Linked DNA regions of Homo sapiens: region 2 is linked to region 1. Evidence: fine-mapped expression QTL. A gene starts in region 1. The other region holds a variant in brackets. All regions are shown on one strand. Distances are from middle to middle. Region 1 holds the start of GLI3 (GLI family zinc finger 3). Region 2 overlaps GLI3 (GLI family zinc finger 3).

Evidence for each region. PIP is the estimated chance that this variant, and not a neighbour inherited with it, causes the effect.
Region 2: its variant is the best candidate, but not a certain one, in a credible set for the expression of GLI3 in fibroblasts (GTEx, PIP 0.90).

The regions. Positions count from the first base shown.
Region 1 is chr7:42,232,701-42,241,038 of GRCh38, reverse strand. It overlaps GLI3 (GLI family zinc finger 3), which reads left to right and starts at 3,830. Exons shown (of 15, transcript NM_000168.6): 1 at 3,830-4,068. RefSeq lists an enhancer at 3,105-4,086.
Region 2 is chr7:41,991,409-41,999,746 of GRCh38, reverse strand. The region is part of intron 10 of GLI3 (GLI family zinc finger 3); the gene reads left to right. Among named protein-coding and RNA genes, the nearest start is that of GLI3, 240 kb to the left of the region's middle. The variant G/A (reference allele first, on the strand shown) is at 4,874.

The DNA of each region.
Region 1 (8,338 bases):
GTCCCATGCAACTTGAAGTTTATTAGTACACATGGACTATCCTCCTGGAATTTTCCAATAATTAACTGGGTGCTACTGTGCAGGGAGATGGAAGAACTGCCATGGTAAGTGAGGGGAGAAAAGTATTTGTATAACATCGGCCCATGGTAGGAATCAGAGGAGCACGTGAAGTTTGTTTCCAGGTTCATCCTTTGTTCTCTCTCTTGCGTATCCTTCATTCCTCTCCCACTATCTTTTGCAGTGTTGTTAGGAGTTGAATTATGTCCCCCAGAAGAAAATGTTGAAGTTCTAACCCTAGGAACCTCAGAATATGATCTTGGAAACAGGCTTGTTGCAGATGTAATTAGTTAAGATGAGGTCATTCTGGAGTAGGGTGGGTCTCTAACAGAATATAACTCGTGCTTTTATAAGAAGAGAAGCCAGAGACAAAGGGAGAATGCCATATGAGGACAGAGGTGGAGACTGAAAGGGAGAAGCTGCAAGCCACGGGACACCCAGATTGACAGCCACCACCAGAAGCCAGTAAGAGGCAAGGGAGAAATTTCTTTTCCAGGTTTCAGAGGGAGTGTGGCCCTGCAAGACACCTTACTTTTGGACTTCAAGCCTCTAGAAACTATAGGACAATACATGTCTGTCCTTTAAGCCATCCAGTTTTTGGTACTTTGTTACCATGGCCCTAGAAAACAAATGCAAGTATCTTCAAGTATCTCCTACTTCACTGTTGCAACAACAAGAAAGAAAGTCTGTCTTAAAAGCTTAACTATTCTGAGGACTTACTATATTAAAATTTCTTAAGATATCTGCATTTGAAAAGAGAACTGATGAGAGATGGCAATAAGTCAATCTATGATAGAATTTCAGACATCAAGGAAGGGCAGTGCACAGAATCCTGTAAGTCTCTTAGTGCTGTGTATCACTACAAACAAAGGTTGTAGCATTGTCTTTCTGGGTGTCTTTGGGTTTTTACAGATGTCTCAGGAGCAACTGCAGGAAAGGGAAAGAGAGAAAGGCTTAGGGGGATTGGGCTCCGAGACCTCACTCCAATTTCAACCATAATAACTCTTCTATATTTTGGGATTCTACGTAAGATTTAATTTGGAAAGCGTTCTGGTGTTAACACAGAGAGAAAGTCACTGCATTATGACATTATTTAACCCACACTCAGGCAAAGTGGGTTTTTTACCCCTCCACTGTTTCTGCAAAATGTGCCTACTTATATGTATGGGTTTACCATTAAAGCAGAGTTGGACACATAAGAGACACAGCATTATTCTTCCTCTTTTTTGTTTAGCTATTGTGACGGGCATAGGGGGAAAGATTAGCTGCTTTTGCTTTGTTCTTGTCTTTTAAGAACTGAAAAATCAAGATCTTCATGATTCAAAATGTGCTATAAGACTGAAGTAAGAGTCGAAATATCTAGTTTATTCTATTATTTGATGATTTATTGGCTGTCTTTCTTTGTATTTATTTTTTGCCATTGGGTGAACAGAGTAGGCTATCAGGATGTACTATTTGTATTCATGTGATTGAGGCAGAAGCAGTACATGAATACTAAAAACAATTGTAACTGATGCTGGGAGTATATAAAGGAAAGAGTGGCTTGCAATTCTCTTCAATTGTAAAAGCATAATTCTTACACACTTGTAGCCCTCTATACTTTTCCATGTATTTCTCATTGGAAACCCTCAGCCATCCTGGGAGGTACGCGACCTGGCACTCCTAACACTATCCCCTAGATGGGCTCAGAGCCTATGGAGGCTCAGAGAATCCTCCCAGGCCTGAGGCCAGTTAGTGAGCGCGGAGATGGGGCTGCCACAGGGCTTCTGAGTCTCGTGCTCTCTGCGATGAGTCAGTGGTGTTTTGTTTTTTCCTGAGCCGTGAGGTCGAGGGAAATCTTAAAACAAATGGCTAACTAGGGCCTTTAGCCCCACCTTACCTCCACCACTTCCACCATAAAACCTTAAGTCTGTCTCTGCACTTGTCATGTCATTGTGACAAGGAAGGAGTCCCAAGAAACAAACAATGAATACCACCCTCAATTTCGTTAAAAGATTCTTCAGTTAAGCATTTGAATCTCAAAATGCTCTTCAAATTCTAATAGCTCATCATTCATCCACCCACACTCTTCCTTCAGTCAAGACACTTGGCGGCAACGCCACACAAGCAACCCGGAGCTCCGGGGCACTTCTGGCTGGGTGGACCCGGCTTAACCAGAAAGAGGGGATGTTGGAATGTCACAGGGGCTTTCTTTTCTTTCTTTTTCTTCCTGTGTTTCCCCCCGAGAACTCCTTTTTTAAGTTACATGTCCAGGTTGGATATATTAAAATGACGCAGATGAACAAGGACTGGATGGTCGAGGAAGGAGGCCAAATAACTTTTACTAGCATGGGCCTCTGAAAATGAAGCAGGGACAGAGACACTTTGTAGCTCAAGGAAAAGCGGCACGTTAGAGACCAGGCTCCAAGCCTGGGGTCTTTGTTTTTGTGTCTTTTATAAAGTGGCCCATAGGGACAGCAGGCTGTGTGGTGGGAGCTCCTCCTCGCTTCGCGGATTTGGCCCCGAGGGCAGACGAGTCCGGTGGAGAGAAAAACCCTGAACTTCCAAAGGCATCATCCCGCGAGAGGGAGTTTCGGGGATGGCTTTGGGAAAATGTAAAACAAGGAGATGGGGAGCCAAGGATGGGGGGCGGTGGTAATCAGAGAAGCCTTAAAAGAATAAAGGGGAGTCCAGCCCTTGAGCAAGAGTGAGAAAGAGAGGCTGGGTGGGAGAAGATGGGAGCAGACAGGACGCAGCACGAGTGCCAGGGCGCGCATTTGGGGGGTGTCCTGGCGGTGTGGAGAGAGAAGAGAGAGGGCGCGGGTGACATCACGCCCGGGCCCCCTTCCCCTCGCCGGGTGGGTGGGGCTTCGGCGCGCCGGGAGGGCGCGGGGTCAAGTAGGGGGAAGAGGAGGAGCAGGCATGAATGTGTCTGTGTGAAGACCGGGGAGGGGCGGAGGAGGAGGAGGAGGAGGAGAAGGAGGAGGAGGAGGAGGAGGCGGCGGCGGCGGCGGCGGCGGCGGCGGAGGGCGGGGAGGGAGCGCGCGCGTGGCTCGCGGCGCCCGGGCTCCCCCCCAGCCCCCGACCCCGGCCCGCGACGCGCCGCCTCCCAGCCGCCGCCGCCCGCCTCGCAGCTGGGACCCACTCCGGGCTTGGGGACCCGGCGGGCGGGAGAAGCGGGGGCTCCCGGCGCGGCCTGGAAGGAGCGAGAAAGCAAAAGTAAGGCGAGCAGCACTCCAAGTTTTCCCAACTTCGCCCCCTGCGGCGGCAGGCGTCCTGCTGCTCAGCGCGTCCCCTCCGAGCCCGAGAGTGGCTGAAAGAAAAGGGACTGGGCGGGGGCCGGGGCGGAGGAAGAGAGAGTGCGAGGGAGCGAGGAGAGTCCGGCAACATCTGTTAAAACTTGGGGGAGGAGGAGCGCGGGGAGGAGGAGGAAGAGGAGGAGAGAAGGGAAGGAGGGAGCGCGCGGGAGGGGAGCGCGGAGCCGAGGGACAACTTTTCCACCCCGTGAGTAGTGCAGGCGGTGCCAGGTCGGGGCGGGGGGCTTCTCCACCCAGCACGGGGCACCAGGCCGGGATGGGACCTTTTTCCAGAAAGTCGATTGGATGCCAGGAGAGGCGTACGGCTGGGGGTTTCTTTCTTTCTCTTTCCCCTCCCTCCCGCGGTTGAACCAAATCAGAACTGTCACTCAGGGCTTGTGAGTCAGAAGGGATCGGATTACACGATCCCCGAAACTGATGCCGGAGCTGCACGAGCGGGAGGGAGCGGGCAGGGGCAGCGCCACCGGCGCGCTCGCACACTCGCACTCGCGCACACCCGCCGCTCCCACTCACCCGCGCCGCTCTCCCGCCTTCCCCGCGCGCCCCGCGGCCGCCCGCGCCGCACCATGCCCGCGGCGGGCGCACCCCGCGCCCAGCCCGGCCGCTCGCGGTAGCCGTAGCCGCCCGCGGCCGCGCGGAGCGGGGAGCCGCCAGCCTGCGCCCCGTCCGCGGGTCTATGGGAAGTTCGGGGACTTGACAGCCGCTGCCGCCGCAGGTACGTCCCGCTCGAAGTTCTTTGTTTCGCGGACCCCGCAGCCCGCTCCTGCGGCCGCGCCCGCGCCTCCGGGGCCAGAGGTGGTCCCCAGCGTGGGGACGGGATGGAGTGAAAATGGCTGTCAAAAGGCGCCCAGATTTAGAGAGCCGCCGGTGAGGCGTCCGAGCAAGGCTTGCATTCGCTCCCTCCTCCTGGAAGGTCCTTTCCGAAGAGTCCGACCCGCGGACCGGCCGGAGACGGATTGGAGAATTTCACCTCCCGGAGGGGGGACGAAGTTTGCCGCAGTGGTGGCGGCGCCCCTCGCCTCCGCCCCCATCCAAAGGGTTCAGAAGAACTCCGCGAGCCCCGCACGCGCCTGGCTCCTTCCTTTGCGCGGTGGCGCTCTACGGCTCGGGCTTCGGGCGCGCACGGCGCTCGGGATGGGCGGAAGGAGGCGGGAGGCATGGTGGGTGCGCGCGGGGACCTCCGCCGCGGGGGCCGCCGCCGCTGGGGCTTCTCCAGCCCGGGCTATGCTTCGGAGGGCGGGGGTGTGGTGTGAGCGGATGGAGAGAGGCGCGCCTTCGTCGTCATAGAGGAAAAGTGAAAGTTGTACCATCTGTATATGATTTGGGATTCTCTTATTTCTTTTCCTTTCCAGGGGCAGCGCGCACAGACACACAAAGTAACCGTGGTCCATGCAATAATCATTTAAGGTGCCGCGTTTACACAGAGCAGCAGGGGACAGTTACTTTCTTGAGTAGCAGCGGGAAAACGGGCGGGAGAAGGCAGAGAGGGTGTAAATATTGATCCCAAACTTGCAGAGTTTGTGAAGCGACTTTTAAGCAGATTGTCCGAAGCGGACGCTCCACCCCGCACCCGGCCTTTTATCCTTTCCTGAACTTTGTGCTCCTGTCCCCCATTGCACCTCCTTCTGTAAGATGCCGTCCCCCGAGAGGCGCTGCACCCCAGGCTTCCCTGCCTGACCCCGCGTGGAAAGAGGATTAAGGAGGCTCCCTCCGCCGCTGGTCATCCTGCCCCAACTTCTCATCTCCCCAGTGCAGACTGCCGGGTAGATTCTGGCCTTGGGTACAGTGCTCATGGCCCTCTGCCAGTTTATATGTACATATATTTATGTAAAACATTTTCTCCCAGCTCTTTGCCAGCTGTTCCACATTTTCCAGCTGCCACTTCAGTTTGAAATGATGGACTGTCTGCGTCTCCAAGTCAAAGAACCCTTTAGTCAAAGGTATGGAGGGCCGGCCGCTGTGCAAATACATGGCAGTGCCATTAGCCGGGCTGGTATTATTAGTTCTAAAAAATACCTCCTGCTCCCCTTTTCCTCTCCTCCCTCTTCTCTCCAGTTAGGCTTTCCAGAGCACAGTATATACACTTTGCTGAAAATTCGAGTAATTAGGCCTTTCCCTCTTAAATGTGATTTTTGTACAGAATTTGGATGAGGCCGTTTTTTTAGATCCCTGAAATATGTGTCTGGTGGAAATAAATTAACTTTTAAAAATAAAAGAGTTTCAGCTTGAGCGCATTGGGCATGGCGGGTGGGGGGCCTGCACCCTGGCCGTCTGAAATGAGCTCTTTTCAGTCTATTTAAGGCAGGAACCATTCATCCTCCCCATGCTACACTTTTTGTGTTGTTTGATGTCTTAGCATATTATAGACCGAAATCTACAAGAATTGACCTAAAGTATTAATTTTGAGTATTTATGTAATTGCTCGGTAATTTTGAATAGGTGCCTTATTGATTGATTCCTGTAATTATTTCATTTAGGTTTTAGATTAAAAATTAATAGTAGTCTGACAGTTTCTTAATTACATGTGTCAAGATTCTTTTGAAGGAGGAAAATGCTATGTTTTAAAATAGTGAAATAGCCTCAAAATCTCTTAATTTTTCTAAAGCAGAACAGTATTTCAGTTGAGGGGATATATTAAAGCTGCCGGGACTGGTTTTAACAATGTAAACTCTGTGAAGTATCTGAAGAATTTGTTTATGTTAGGAAATATTGGTCTTAACGACCTGGTACACAAACACTTTGGCCAGTTAAACTATATTCAAACCTAAAACAAACATGAAATAACATTTAAATTAGTTGTAATAGCATGCTTATACAGAGTAGAGAGTTTATTTTATACTAAAAGCTATTTAATTAGAAACTCCCCGCCTAAGGGGAGATCCTTTCAGGGTATGCAATTCTTAAAGTCAGCCTAGGGAAGCTTTGGTTTAAGATGCATGAATGAGTCCAATGTGAGAGGTGTCTAGTGAAATTTCACACAAGCAGAAACACTTTAAAGATATAGATTGTATTATTGTTAGTAGGCTGGTAGGTCCAACTCAGATGCCTACCAATTCCCAGTGCCTTTAACATGCTTGTGTTCCTTGACTGAACCTTGATATAAACACATTTCTATTGTATATCTAATTTGCAAAGGACCATAGACAGAAATGAGAAAATTCAATACTGATGAAAAATGGCTCTGTAGAGTTATTTCATTAATTATTTAATGAAAGAATTGTTAATTTATCAATTCGATGTGCAAGCCTAAAAGTTGGACTTTCCTTTGTTTCTTGGCCAGTGAAGTTTCCTTAATTACCTGCATGCTGTAAGCATTTCAGACTTCCTCTGTGCTTAGCCATTTAGAGGTCCTTCCTCCTATGTAAGGTATCCTGCTTACTGAGACCTCTTCTCCCCCTCCATTTTTTGAGGATAGAGTTTGGGAGCTTATGAAAAGAAACAATTTAATGATCATTGTTGCATGCACTCACTTACATGGAGACAGTAATGTACTAAGAAAAACCAGTCTTGAAGGAAAAGTGAATCAATGAGTCATGAAATCCTCAAGAAAACCTTAGCAATGGAATGTTAATGCTTTTAGACTATAGTAGATTATCTTAAAAGTCAGACTTTTCTTCTTTATGCAATTGTTGTAAATCCCCAGCTAAAGAATTCTTTGAAGGAGGTTTTAGTTTTGCTGGCATTCATATTCTGAGGTCGGTCTGATTTGTTTTGGAAGATTCAGTAAATTTTCTGCCAACTTATATCATGAGAGGCAATTAAAATGCTGAAATGACTTTATAGGACACACACACACATACACACACGTTTGTTAAACAAAAGGTTCCACTCTAATAATGACTTCAGGTTGTCTTTTCATTAAAGCCTAGGAGAAGATACTGCCCTTCTCTTCACGTTGTCATTTTTCTAGATGAAAATTGATCTGTTTCTGGTTTCAAAGCAAATAAAGGGAGACAGAATAAACAACAACAGGGCAGGGGGTACTGCTGCAAACTTTTTCAAGTATTTTCAGTGTATTTTTCATCTTTACTTTTATTTGATGGGCCTGTGAAATAGAGCTGTAGACTGGCGAAGACTTTAAATGAAATTTCACACTTTGATGATTTTTTTTAAACTTTGATATATTGACAGCAAAAGGAGCTGCAAAGCTTTTATATAACTTGAGCAGTAACGCCAAGCAGCAGTCAAACGTCTCTATGCATTTGTGTTTAACTGCAGAAGAAAAACATGTCCATGGGCAGTGGAGGTTCTTATCAACCCCCTAATCCCAGATCCCAGCAAACCTTGAGGGCATGCCTCAGATCTTGCTGAAATCACTGTAGACTCTCACAGTTTGCAGATTAAATATGCTATGTGTTCCTGGCTCCAGCAACAGTTTTATGAGCTCACTAAGCTTCCTGTTTTAAGATCCTTTTCTTAAGTTTTTAGGAGCTGCTAAAGGCAATGCTGTCTGGAGTAAGTGGTACTTGTTAATTTAGAGCCACTTTAGATATTTCATTCTCTTTTTTAAAAATTGCCATAATTATTATTTTTAAATTGAAAGGCCAGTCACTCCAGGGAGAGGGAGGAGAGCTGTTTGAAAGAAATTGAATGTTAAATGTGTTTGGAAGTACATTTGATCGCAAACTTTACATGGTGTCTCAATTGTTTTATGGCACTTTTCTTTTGCCTGGCCCCTGAAAATGAGAGACTTTTTCCACTTGTAATTCTAAATGCGCTATATTTGAGTGCCAAATTTCTTCACTACTCATTACCTCTGTGAGTGTCTTTTGGTTTTTTTAAATGTGAAAGTGTTTTTTGTTCTGTGTGTATATATTTCAACCCGACAAAATGTCTCAGAAAATCTATGGCCTTCTAAAGAAGCTGAATGAAAAAGCCATTACATAGTTAATAAGGTGGCTTTGGAACATTTCAGCCCCCTCCTGAAAGGCAATATTGTGTTGAGCTCCACATCTGCATCTGTGGTATCTATAGTTGTACTCTCA
Region 2 (8,338 bases), 240 kb after region 1:
TTCTTTTCACCAAACAGAGGATAGACTCATTTGGATGTTATCAAATTCAAGGTCGCCAAGGAGTGGCCCCCACTTGTTCTAGTCATGTGTAGCAGGACCACATATCCATCGGCGACAGATGAGAGAGGCCAGAATGGTCCTTCACCACAGAGAGCTTCAGGGCCCCTGATGCAGGGCGTTGGAGATGTGGTGTCTGAAAGGTGTAAAAGAGGAGTGGATGAGGGCAAGAATAACCACCCTGGATGACTTTGACGTACTTGTGGTTTATGGGAAGATGTTTGCCTAATTTTGTGGCCAGTGAAGCCCCAGTAGCCCAGAGCCAATGAAAAGCAATAGTATCAATCAGAACCTTTTTCTGTCTTTGTGGACAGTATTGAGTTCTGATTCAGAAGATGTGTCCAAAGGCCACATTGCATAAGTCAAGACTACGCTGCTCTGTGAGGGTGCAGCAGTCTGTGGGGTGAGTTTTCAGTGCTGCTGTTGTGCATACAGTGATGAAGGCAGGTGTCCTAGGTCACTTTCATTTTTCCCCCATGTTAATCCAGATGGTCTCATTTTTTTTCTTAGTAGTTTTTGCCATCTAAGGTCCAGCATTTATTGATGATAACTTCCTATCATGGCGTAATGTCCTGTGGAAAATGATATGCTACCCTCTCTTCAACAGGAAACTCCATTCATCTGAATAATCCATTTTTCATACTAAGCAAACTTCCAACTTCTCAAGTCACTTGATACCAAATGTGGAAAACCCTGGACACATTTGAACAAAATCTCAGTGCACGTGCCCATCACACTCCATAGAGGGTGAAAGGCTGTGTGGGGGAAAACACAGAAGATTAAATAGGACATTGAAGTAGGTTGGGGTGAAAACTAATATTTTTAGCAGAAGAGAAAGATGCAAAATAATTGCAGGTGTTAGTTTATATTTACATCATAGATTTGCATAACACAAAAAAGTGCTTTGATTGTTGATGTCCAAAGTTGACGAATAATTTGGTGAGTAATGTAGAGGTGAAAATATCCATAGCTTGTGCATTAAGTTGGCTGTGGAGTGTAATTTGTACTGAGCCAATGTTAACACCATTCAGAGTCTCTGCCAATAAAATCAAGCACTCTATTGAAATGTTCTAATTTATTATTTTACTTTCTTACTAGGAGTAATGGATTTTGTACTTCATAGTCTGATGAGAGGTGTTAAAAGTTAGAGGTGAAATTTATTTTTGAGGCATTTAAGAAGGGAAAAATTATATAAGTGAGGGCCATGGAATAGGTCCCATTAATGAATGCATAATTAGCAATTTGTTTGACATATCCCGTGTCCTGCCATGGTGGGAAGCAGCTGTTTGCAGCATATTTTGGGCTTCTTTTGAATGGTTTTTACAGGCTTTCTGGACACTTCAGATAAGAAGCAGTAAAAGAGCTATTTTTTTAATATGTATAAAGAAAATACAGTGTTCTCTGTCACATGCTTGGAATTTGAGCCTGTGGTGTGAATACCTTAGAAGAGGTGCCATATATTGATTACTTCAGCCATCTCAGTTTACTTGTAAAATAAATGAAGTCAGCCCCTGGCTCCTCTAAGTCCCTAGTGACCATTTCCATCCTTTACCGCCTCTTTCCAAGCATTACCTTAGAATGACCTGGTGGAGCCAGCTTAATGACAACATGTGAACCAAAAAGAATTCCTAATTCTTGCCCTTTGCAAAAAATAAATTAAAATTTAAATTAAAAAATTTTAAGTGTGCAGCCGGCATATAGGAGATGTCTTCTGCCCTAGAGCAGAAGCTTCCCTCCTCTGACGTAGAGCAAGAAAACATCAATATTAGAGCTAAATTGAGAAAATCTTTTCAGTGCATCTGGATTGGTGAACGGCTTAACTGCAGCTACAATGAAATATGAGGAAACAGATTATTGGTTCAAGTTATATATTTATGTTGCACCAAGCACCAGTTCCTGAGCACCTGCGTGTGGAAGTCAGGGTGAAGGCCTGTGGGGTACCAGGATGAATGTGATACAGTTCCTCTACTCAGGAAGCAGTCCAGAAGGGGTCAAAGCCATGCTCACGCAAAATAAACCCAGCTAGAAAGCAAAGCAGAAGGTATCATTTGAGGGATTTTGATGTTCAGGAGAATTAGGACACACACAACGTCCAGCCAGAACACCAGCTCTTTCTCTCTTTATTTTTAAATTTCTATTACTTGGACACTTTTTTCTTTTGCTCATCTAATCATATGACCGCAAAGAGCAATAGTGGATCTGATACTCAGTATTCTGGAATGATCATTGGCATCTGCCAGAATTGTCAGTAGCGTTCACTTTAGTAAAATGTGAACACTGCAAAACTCCTAGGTCCCAGCCATGCCTAGTGTAAAAATGTCAGCCTGCAAAGTTGGTAAAGTCCAGCCACCACATAGTGACTTTTAAGGGTGTTGTAAAATTCTTTCCATAAATAATGTTAAAGAAGAAAAAAAAAAGCTGGACTTCTCAAAATGTCAGGTTTCTTTATCAGCCTTCCAACCAATCACTCAGGGATGCCTTTCCTTCCTGGGAGATGGTACCATAGGCTTACATTATATCATGTATGGAAACATCTGGGGGAAAAACTCAACTCCCATTAAAAAATATATTTTATATAGCCCTGAAAGGAAAACAGTGAACGCCCACACCACTCACAGCTGAGATTACGGGAGTGTCTCTCCCAGCAGCTTTCCCATATGAAGAAATAAAAATCCCAATTCTTCTGCCCATTGTTTTATGGCCACATGGGCTTGCACAGGAAATCAAGGAGGAATTGTAAAACACTGCATTCACAGAGCTTAGTTTCACTTTACCACACTTGCCACATACAGATGCATCAAATCAAATCAGAACAAGATGTGATCTTACTGAGAAAGAATCCTTATAATATCACGTTACCTCCCCCTGAAAATTCCCCCAAGCATGCATAAAATCCAGAAGACCTTAAGTAGAATATTGAAGAGAGCCTTTAAGGCTGAAAAGCAAGCTGCATTTACCTTCCTTGTATCATATTATATATACATATTACAATTATGTCAGCGATTAAAAGCATTGTCATGCTGCATTATGAACTGTTTTTACGTTTAGGATTAGATAATTCTTTCCCCATACCCCCTCAGATTCCTTTTATGTCCTAAGGGCAAATCCTTTCTCTTGGGTCAGGAATGTAATAAGGTAGGTTTTCCTCTCTCTGGGATATTGTGTCTGTCTCACTGTGTTTAAATTGATTCAGAAAGCTCTTCAGAGCAAAATACAGTATTTTCTTTGTATATGAGCCAGCGGTTGACTAACCCTTGGGGAATTCTCTGTGTTGAGCATTTGAAAGGTACAGGTTGGGTATGTTTGAACTGCTGATGCTCAGTGAAGACCACTGGGAAAGTGGATTGGCCGTGGCTCTGAGAGAGGCCTTTTCTCTAATGTGGACTCGAGGAAAAAAAAAATAATTGTTCCAACAAATAATTTTTAATGGTACAATAATTTAGGAAAATTAGCCAGTTCATTTTAATAAGAATGGATCAAGACCAAAATAAAGAGGGAATTATAGTTTATACAAATGTATGAACATACAGTTTAAAGGCATTTAGCCACCAAAAATAAATTTTCTAAAAACAGCAGTTTTCTCTCCATCCACTGTATGAAGTGTTAACACATCCCTCCTGAGAGTTGAACCACAGGCCCTGGGATCAAAACAGAGCAAATTTACCATTTACACTGAAGGGGACTTTCACTTAGATTTGGTATCTCCTTCCAGACCACCAGTTAGCAGAGGTCAGACCCATTGCCAACCAAGGATAACTAATTTAACCCTTGTAATGTTGGTTACTGGTTTTGACAGTGCCCCAGAGTCTAGGATCTTGGAATATGTATCAAGTATAGTCAGAGTATCAGGAGTACACTGTGTGTGTTTGTGTCTGCATGTCTGCATGGATGCTTTCGGTTTTCTCCCTCCCTCCCTTCTTGCCTTTCTTCTTTCTTTTCTTCATCTCATTTATTTTAATGGGTACACAGCACCCCTTCTCTTCTGTGCATTTTCTGTAGCATTTAATTAAAAGGCATTTGGGAAATGTTCTCTTCTGTCGAGGCCTTTGACTCTCTCACAAATGAGCAAACTTTTAGACCTTGAAATTGCCACTTTTTTCCTCAGCTACATCTACATAGTGGGTAGAAAGTTTAGCCCTGAATTTTGTTCTTATCTATGCCACAAACTCATGGTGCACTATTAGGTAAGCTTCTGAACCCCTCTGAACATCAGGAAAACCCTCCTGTGGGAGATGAGGTGTGAGGAGGAGGCAGCCAAGTAGAAAGACATCGGACAAGCAGGCCAGGCAGAAGAGTTGGCATGAGCCAAAGCCCAGTGTGTGCAGCCTACACACCAGGTTCCTGCAAACAGATGAGAGAAGATAAACCAGGAAGGAGCATAACGCAAGCAGCCATGTTCCCACATCTATGACGGATGGATTCACATCCATCATGGGTGGCAAGGACCTTAATACCTATAGCCTGGGACCAGGGGACACATCTTGACTTTTTGCTAAACAAACTATGCTCCTGATACTTGTACTGCAGTTGTGTTACCTGACAAATGAAATATACAGACATCATTTTGCATGTACTTTAGATAAAATAACTAACAGGACACTTTTACTTTAAAAATCCAGGTGGCAAAATTTGGCCGAACATTGAGTTTCAGTTAGTTTCAGTCTGGTTTATTTTGCAAGCGCATTCATTATTTATTCCCCAGAGAGTGCTGAAATTCATAAACTTTTAACCAGTTGCTCTGGTATAACCACACTAAATTAATATTCTGTTCACATGCAATGTGGAGATCATTATGAAAGCCACGTATATGTCACAG[G/A]CATGTGCCTGAAGTGTCAAATGAAAGATTTTAAAGACTTGAATGATTATGCAATATACACCGGCCAAATACTCCCAAGAAAATCTGCTTATAAAAATAAGTTTTATGGAATAAAAGTACCAAATTAAAAACATATTTTGAGGAATAAATTAGCACTTCTTGAGGAATGAAATTCTTACTTTGGTGGGGAGGTAAAAGACAAAGCAAGAAAACAAAATTGCAGAAATGGCTCAAATTCAAGAAAAGTCACCCTCCCCCAGGAGTGATTTCACCATGTGAAGAATGGTGCTTAGCACAAGGCAGGCTTTCTTCCCAGTTCCCCTTTGGAAGGACCACAGAATTTTGCACACACACACACCCTTATTTATTTATTTTAAATTGCCAAGTTTAAACCTGTGTTTCTAGGTAAAGTGCCTTCTTTATTGCTCCAATGAAAATTCTGTAGGACCAACCTTACTTCCCTTTTTTGACTCTTCAAACATGTTAGTCATGATAGGGGGCAAGATTTCTATTCCGTGAATGAGATTTCCACAAGCAGATTAAGGAGGAAATATGCCCTTTAGTTTTCTATTCGTTGACAGCATTGCATTGGGAAGAAATCTCTGTGCAAACTGTCCACAAGAACAATAGCTAGGGGCCCAAATTCCAGTGAGATAGAGTGCAGCTTAATCTTGTCAAGGATAACTTGGTCTTTGTTTTTCCTCCTTCATCTGATGCTTTAATGAATTATTTCAAGAGAAACCTACGATAAAGCATCAGATTATTTTTTTCTACAGCCAGTGGGACATAACATTGAAAGTTAGGGTTACCATTTAAATGCCAGAACCCTTACCCCACAGTTATGTCAACATTGTCATGGTGGGCAAAAATAAATTTTAAAATTCTTTTCATTTATAACAAATAGGAGCCAACTAAGATAACTCTGAATTATGTCATGACTAACTCAGAACCCCAGTCTAAAATTATAGTCTGAAAGGAGGCCCTCCTTGGTGGACCCTACAGGCATCTGTGATGCTGAGGTTTATCAGATTGTGGGGAATAGAGCAATCACAGGAAATTGCTTCCGTTTCCTGTGGCTTCTGATTCTCAAAGCACAAATCTAAGGCAGGCAGCCGGTTGGGAGTATATTGAGGCCTGGGACCACATTGGCTCCAAAGCTTGTTGTTTTCAATAACACATTTCTAATAACACATTCCTCCAGCAAGTATTTACTGAGTTCCTACTATAGGCTGGGCATTGTTCCAGGCACTTGGAACATATCATTGAACAAAACTGATAAAAATCCCTGGCTGTGTGGAATTCACATTCTGGTGGGCGGAGCAGACAATAAATATTAAACAATGTCAGTCAGTAAATTATAGTGTGTTGGAAGTGATAAGGGCCACGGGAAAAAAGGGAGAGCAGCAGGGTAGGGCTTGGAGAGTTCAAGGATGGGGAGGTTGGACAGTAAGTGGGGTCATCAGGACCAGGATCGAGCGGGGCGATGAGTCTCTGTAAGGAGGTGGCATTTGAAGAAGGACTGCCAGAGGTCAAGTTATCCTCGCTCAGTGACCCCATCCTAGACGTGACCACACGTCTCCAGCTGTGGATCTCTATGTTGCCAGCCTCTGGAGGGCATTTTCCTCTAAAACCCTGGCTCTGCTCTGTCTCCCTTGTTTCAGGGGTGGTCAGGTGTGCCTCCAGGTCAGTGTGGTCCTCGGGTTTCCTCTCACTCCACCTTTTTTCTTGCCGGACACTTTGTCACACATCCAGCTGACTTCTGGTGACCACTCATCTGTATTCTGGGATGAGGTCACAGTCTCACTTTTCCAGCAGGCCTCCTTGATAAAAGGCTGTTGCACAGAACTGAATTTTGCAGGCAGCATGGGAGAAACAAAAGGTTCAAAACAACAAACTGCTTAAAACTCGAGTGCTATATTGATTTCTATTTGCAACTCCTTAGCCCCTTCCAGCACAGTAATTTCAAATGAACCAGTTTTCCTGCTTAAGCCCACACTCCAACATATTGCTAGACATTTTCTGTCTTTCCTGTCTGATCCCCCCAAACTTACTGGGGCTGGCAAGCTACCACTGGCAAAGAACTTAATACTTCCTTGCCTTAATCGCTTCTTTTGGGGTCCTCCAAAGACACCCCACATGATGACATGCTCTGTCCCCTGCCATTTACTGTGTCCTTTGTTCTCTCCTTTACTTTCTTTTTTTGTTTCCCTATCTCTTAAAATACCGGTCTCGTCATTGTTTTCAATTTCTTCCTTTTTCATCCTCTGTACAGTCTCCATTGGTCAGGGGTTTTCAAATTGGGCTTTGTGAAATCTTTAAAATACTGTGTAGGTGTTTTTTAGTTTACCAAAGATAACATGGGGTAGGGAAGGGGCCCACATTCCTGCATCAGCTGCAGTCTTTCTTAGATTCTCAAATCTTTATGTCCAGGATTGTCTTCTCTGTGGGATCTCTCTACCAGAGATGTCCTGGAGGCATCTCCACTATGATATGTTCCACACAGAAGGGTAATCGTCACCAAATCTCCTGGCCCTCCAATACTGTTATTGTCTCAGATCTTTCAAGCTGGAGACTTCGGTATCACCTGTTACTCCTCTCTCTAATTCATCACCCACAAATTATTCCATAATGTCTTTCACATCTAGCCCCTTACTATTCATCCTCCTGGCTACTGCTGTAGTTCAAGGTCACAGCTTTCTTGGATGATTATAGCAACTCCTAGATGGATTCATTGCCCAGTCTTTGCTTAGTGCCTCTATGATGCTGCCAGAGTTACCTTTTATAAGAACAAATCTGATCATTGCCCTGCTTAAAACCTGCTCTTGGTTGCCTGGGATCTGGTTGCCTTAGGGCACTCAACTCCCCTTATAATTTTTCCCCAGGCTGCCTCTGCAGCACTCATCCTACAGCCACTCACCAGCATGTGCACACATACACATGCATACACACACATATGCACAGACACGCACACACATTCCCCAATCCTATACTTGGCACCATTTTCCAACACATTGTGTTTTTCTTAACACTGGGCCTCTGTATCTCTCTTCCCTTCTTCCTCAATTCACTTTTTCCTGTGTCAGCCTCCCTTTCTTCCTTCTGAATTCAGCTCAGTTACCCTGTTTATGAAACCTTCCCTTCTTCACTATTTTATTAGTGCCTATCCCATTGTTTCCCATTCACCTTATTTAGACTCAGGCACAATGCCTATGTCTCATATATGTTTTGCCCATGGCACACAAATGAATGAATCCCTATAGCCTACTGTCTGGGCTTATGCTCTTTCTCTAAACTCTATGCCTTCTACTAATAAGCTAAAGAAAATTACAATCTAGGTATAGAACATGTAGTGGATACTCATATTGCGTGTATGGAGATTTTGCTTTTATATACTTAGATGTACTGTTAATAGGGGGTCAAGATGTTTAGGAGGGTACTGCACACCAGGGTGGCTTGTGAATAAAA